2 separate regions of the Homo sapiens genome follow, and region 2 is linked to region 1. Evidence: fine-mapped expression QTL. Tissue or cell type: testis. Region 1 holds a variant in brackets; the other region holds the start of a gene. All regions are shown on one strand. Distances are between the middles of the regions.

Region 1 (2,684 bases):
ACACAAGCAGCGTCAAGTCAGAGTACACGGACCCCTGGGGTTATTACATTGACTACACGGGCATGCAGGAAGATCCGGGGAACCCGGCAGGGGGCTGTTCAACCAGCAGTGGGGTGCCCACTGGGAACGGGCCAGTCCGCCATGTCCAAGAAGGGTCCAGAGCCACAATGCCCCAAGTGCCCGGTGGTTCAGTCAAACCAAAGATCATGTCACCAGAGAAGTCACACAGAGTCATTTCTCCATCCAGTGGGTATTCCAGCCAGTCGAATACACCCACAGCACTCACCCCTGTGCCTGTGTTTTTAAAATCAGTGTCACCAGCAAACGGGAAGGGGAAGCCCAAGCCCAAGGTACCAGAAAGGAAGTCCTCTCTGATATCTTCAGTATCCATTTCCTCATCGTCCACTTCTCTTTCTTCTAGTACTTCTACTGAAGGAAGTGGCACTATGAAGAAGCTGGATCCAGCCGTGGGCTCTCCCCCGGCTCCTCCTCCTCCTCCTGTTCCCTCTCCTCCATTCCCTTGTCCTGCAGACAGGTCTCCTTTCCTTCCTCCCCCACCTCCTGTCACAGATTGCTCCCAGGGCTCTCCTCTGCCTCACTCTCCTGTGTTCCCCCCTCCGCCGCCAGAAGCTCTCATTCCTTTCTGCTCCCCACCTGATTGGTGCCTTTCTCCTCCCCGCCCTGCACTGAGCCCCATTCTTCCAGATTCACCTGTGTCCTTGCCATTGCCCCCACCTCTCTTACCTTCCTCGGAACCCCCACCTGCCCCACCTCTTGACCCCAAATTCATGAAAGACACCAGGCCGCCTTTCACAAATTCTGGCCAGCCAGAATCCTCCCGGGGATCCTTGAGGCCGCCTTCTACCAAGGAGGAGACCAGCAGGCCCCCCATGCCCCTGATAACCACGGAAGCATTGCAGATGGTGCAGTTGAGGCCCGTGAGAAAGAACTCAGGCGCTGAGGCGGCACAGTTGTCTGAACGAACAGCTCAGGAACAACGAACTCCAGTTGCTCCACAGTACCACTTAAAGCCATCTGCTTTCCTGAAATCCCGAAATAGCACAAATGAAATGGAGAGTGAAAGCCAGCCTGCCTCTGTGACAAGCTCGCTTCCGACGCCTGCCAAGAGCTCGAGTCAGGGTGACCATGGCAGTGCGGCTGAGCGTGGTGGCCCTGTGAGCCGCAGCCCTGGAGCTCCAAGCGCTGGGGAGGCAGAGGCTCGGCCCAGCCCCAGCACCACCCCACTCCCAGACTCTTCACCCAGCAGGAAGCCACCCCCCATTTCCAAGAAGCCCAAACTGTTCCTGGTGGTACCACCTCCGCAGAAAGATTTTGCAGTGGAGCCCGCAGAGAACGTGAGCGAAGCCCTCCGAGCTGTGCCCAGCCCCACGACGGGAGAGGAGGGCTCTGTGCACAGCAGGGAGGCAAAAGAGAGTTCTGCAGCCCAAGCTGGCTCTCATGCCACGCACCCTGGCACCTCGGTTCTTGAGGGAGGAGCTGCAGGATCCATGTCTCCCAGCAGAGTGGAAGCCAATGTCCCCATGGTTCAG[C/G]CTGATGTCTCACCAGCCCCCAAGCAGGAGGAGCCAGCCGAGAACAGTGCGGATACTGGGGGCGATGGGGAGAGCTGCCTATCTCAACAGGACGGAGCAGGTGAGTCTGGCTTCCTGGCTTCTCTCTCCTGTGCCCTCTGCCCATATGCAGCTGAACCAGATAGGGTTGTTGAATGCTCACACGTGGAAAGAACCCAGGTAGATCAGATTCCTGTTAAAGCTAGCAGTATGTAGGCTTCCTGTGTTAAAACACAGATTAAGTTACCAACTTTGCATTTTGTTATTATTTTTAAAATCTAGACCTAAAGGCATGGCAGAAAATAGGGGGATGGAGATGATCTGCAGCAGGCTGGGTATTAAATAGCAATGGGTAACACCTCCCTTCCGAAGAGCCGCGCAAAGAAACGTTGCAACAAAATTTAAGAGAGATGCCATGGGCGTTCCATACTTTAACAAAGAATGAGCTCTGGCTCTCAGGCTAGTGTCATTTCCTCCCTTCTTTGTAAACTATCAAACTACAGACCCACGGCATCTCCCTGTGGTTCTCACATTGTCGGGAATGGCAGGGAAGCAGCATATTTAGAAGCTTGGCTGAGGACTGAAATTCCAGTCACTTGTGCGTCTTGTATGCCTGCCTGCTCTTCTGTAGCTGGGGTGCCGGAGACCAACGCAGCCGGTTCATCCTCAGAGGCCTGTGACTTCCTCAAGGAAGACGGGAATGATGAGGTAATGACCCCCAGTCGACCCAGGACCACAGAAGACCTTTTTGCAGCTATTCACAGGTATTTCAAACTCCTTCCTCTGACTTTAATCTACTGTGTAATTCCTTCTTTCCAAGCAGCACCTCAATTTACTTTTCTTCCTTGAGGTTTCTTCTGTCACCCAATCATAACTCCTTAACTTTACTGTTGATTTTTTAGTGGGTTTCTACAGTTTTATTTCCTCTGGCTCCAATTTCTGTTTTACTTTGTCTCACTGATTTTTATGACATTGGGGACAGTGGCTCAATGTGATACGTTCTGGTAGGCGCTGCTCTTCCTGGCAAGGAGCGCAGTGTGGCAGTCATAAGACAGAGTATATTAGCAAGAGTCGGATTAAAGTGACTGACAGTGCAGTCAGGAGGAGGAATGCTAT
Region 2 (2,684 bases), 370 kb before region 1:
TGGGCTATTGATCTTACAGGCGGTGATAGAAAATACCATACTTGTGCTGGTATTTTCAAATGGTGGATGTGCTCACTGATTTATAAGTTTAAAGCTATAAAACTAAAGCTGTAACAAACAAGATGCAACTGTTGCTATAAAACTTCCAAGTCCTTAACCCTTCTTCCTCCCACTGAAATAAGTGTTTGTAGAGCATGATTTTTGAGGTTTCTGTGGAGCACAAATGTCAGTTCCTGCAGAACAGACTTTAACAGGCTTGGATACAATTGCATGGGTTGCAGTGAACTTTAACACCAATGATGTCAGGATATTGTGTTCTGATACATATGCAAAGTTTATTAATAAGCACAGCATCGGTATTTTTAAATCGATATTTTAAAGTACCACTGTTTTATTTGTCCTGCTCATCAAATCTTAGCATATTAACTCTTAGAGCTATCCTTATAACCAAGACCTATATTCACAGTAGATTTTTTGTATTCCTCCCTCATTCCCCCAACCCAGCCCCCACCCTACTCCCTACATTTTTGGACCCCATAGGAGGAAAGAGGGAGAGAACTGTCAGAAGGAAGAAGGCAGTTGGTGTGAACCTATGAAAATCAGCGTTTTCCAAAGTGTTCAAGAACTTTACTTCGATCCCAAATCAGTTCTCTGGAGGAGGTAAGAGTTTACTTGGCATGGCCCGATGCAAACCCTACCCTACGCGTGGATTTTGTTTCTCCCCAGAGCCTCTTCAGAATCTTGGTTAATTCCAGAGCTGCTAAGGGACTCCAGGGTCGCGGAGGGAGGGCCCTGCGCCCCTCAGCGCTGCTTAGGGTCTTCCTGGGCGACTGCACTGGGAAACTAAGCCGGCCCAGGCGATGTGCCCCGGGCGGCCCCAAGAAAAAGACTAGCGGCTCAGAAGCCACGGGCTTTACCTCTAGGAAGTGGCTATGAGGCCCGGTACAGTGGCGGCTGTCTCCTCTTGGAACCGCGCAGTGAAAATCGAGTGCGCCAACTCGGGCCGCAGCTCCGGAGAGGGGTGGGGCAGGGACAGGGTCATCTCCATAGGGATCCAACAACACGGAGCCACCACCCCGCCCCACAGGCCCGCAGCCCCTCCCGCCGCCGCGCCCGGACGGCCAACCTGCATCTCCCCAGCTGCAGTGAGCAAAGCCGCCCGCGCCGTGCGAGCCACCGCCCTTCTCTTGAGGCCAGCTAGGCTCGGGTCCCGGCTCCTTTCCCTGCCTCCAGGGAGCTTGCGGTGGGAGAAAGCTTCCGTGGGGTCCCGTGGGTCGCGGCACGTCTCGGAAGCCCTGCGAGGTGCCCAGCAGAGGTGCCAGACCCAAGGCCGTGGGACCCCAAGAAGAGACTTGGACACTGAAGCCAACGTTTGCTTGATCTCAAACAAAGCCAGCGATGTTAATTAAGGCTGTGTGATGAGGAAAGTGGAGTTTCTTATTTTTTGTCACATTCATCTTCAGCAGATCCTCAGAAAATGTTAATATTTACTGCAGAATTACCAATTTCAGCATTATACAGGAGGTACAAAAACAAAACCAAAAAACCCTTCTTCATTAGTTTCAGGTCAAAATGTCTTTTAACTATTTATTGTGAAGCCTGTTTTTTTCTTTTGTATGTAATAGTTATGGCCATGAAAAGATGCTCACAGTACATTACTTACAAAAAGCAGCTTAGAAAACCAGCAGAATGGTACGATCTATTTTTTTTGCAACGTGTGTAAGAAATCTGGGAGTATGTACACAAATAGGTTAAATGGTTTGCTCTGGTAGTTTTAAAAATCATCTGTAATTCAATTTTTCCTACAACGAATAAGCAACATCTATGTAATAAACCATAAGTTTCATTCTAGTAAAGTTTCATATGAGAAATGTGATCTTGCTATGCTGCCTAGGCTGGAGTGCAGTGGCTATTCACAGGCCTGGTCATTGTGCACTATATTTTTATTTTTATTTCAAATATCTTTTTCTTTTTCATCTGTATGCCAGTAAAATCATCATTGTACACTATAGCCTAGAACTCCTGGGCTCAAGCAATCCTCCCGCCTCAGCCTCCAGAGTAGCTAAAAGTACTGGTGCCTGTCACCAAACCAGGCCTTAAATTTTATTCTAATCCAGGCACTGCATTTTTTCCTGTTTCCTTGAACATGTGTTTAAGGAGTGTGAAAGGATACAAATTAGATAAGCTAATATTTCGCTACCTGGGACCCATTTAGGGCCCTGTGACACAAAGGGCGAATGAACCAAGTGAATAAACAAGGTCAATCCACTGCTCTGTCACAACCCGCAGGAACCAGCTTTTTGCTTTACTCTATCTCAGGACCAATCCAAGAAAAACATGTCACATGACAAAGTGTCCTTTCGCCCTGTCAGACCCTAGAGTACGACTTTTTCCCCCTTAAATCCCTATTCTCACAACCCAAATGAAGTTTCCTCCATGATGCTGTAATTTTTAAAAGGGGTATTAAAAAGACCAATTTACTGATCAAAATACTTTGAATTCAGAAAGCCAAAAATTATTAAAATCAAGATTTGAAAAATATTCAGTAAGTCCCTCTCCTCCCCTCCCCCAATTAGGTGCTTATTTCTGTGGCCTGGAAACAAGGAGACAGAAGCATGAGCATCTTCTGCAACACAAAGGTAACTGAGTTATAAATAAGCAAAATGTGTTCTATCCATACCATG

Evidence for each region. PIP is the estimated chance that this variant, and not a neighbour inherited with it, causes the effect.
Region 2: it holds the start of ECT2L, and the variant in region 1 is fine-mapped to the expression of ECT2L in testis (GTEx, PIP 0.97).

The regions. Positions count from the first base shown.
Region 1 is chr6:138,429,359-138,432,042 of GRCh38, reverse strand. It overlaps NHSL1 (NHS like 1), which reads left to right. Exons shown (of 8, transcript NM_001144060.2): 6 at 1-1,650; 7 at 2,200-2,332. Among named protein-coding and RNA genes, the nearest start is that of MIR3145, 4.6 kb to the left of the region's middle. RefSeq lists enhancers at 858-1,357, 1,358-1,859. The variant C/G (reference allele first, on the strand shown) is at 1,551.
Region 2 is chr6:138,794,426-138,797,109 of GRCh38, reverse strand. ECT2L (epithelial cell transforming 2 like) reads right to left here and starts at 1,023. Exons shown (of 22, transcript NM_001077706.3): 1 at 918-1,023.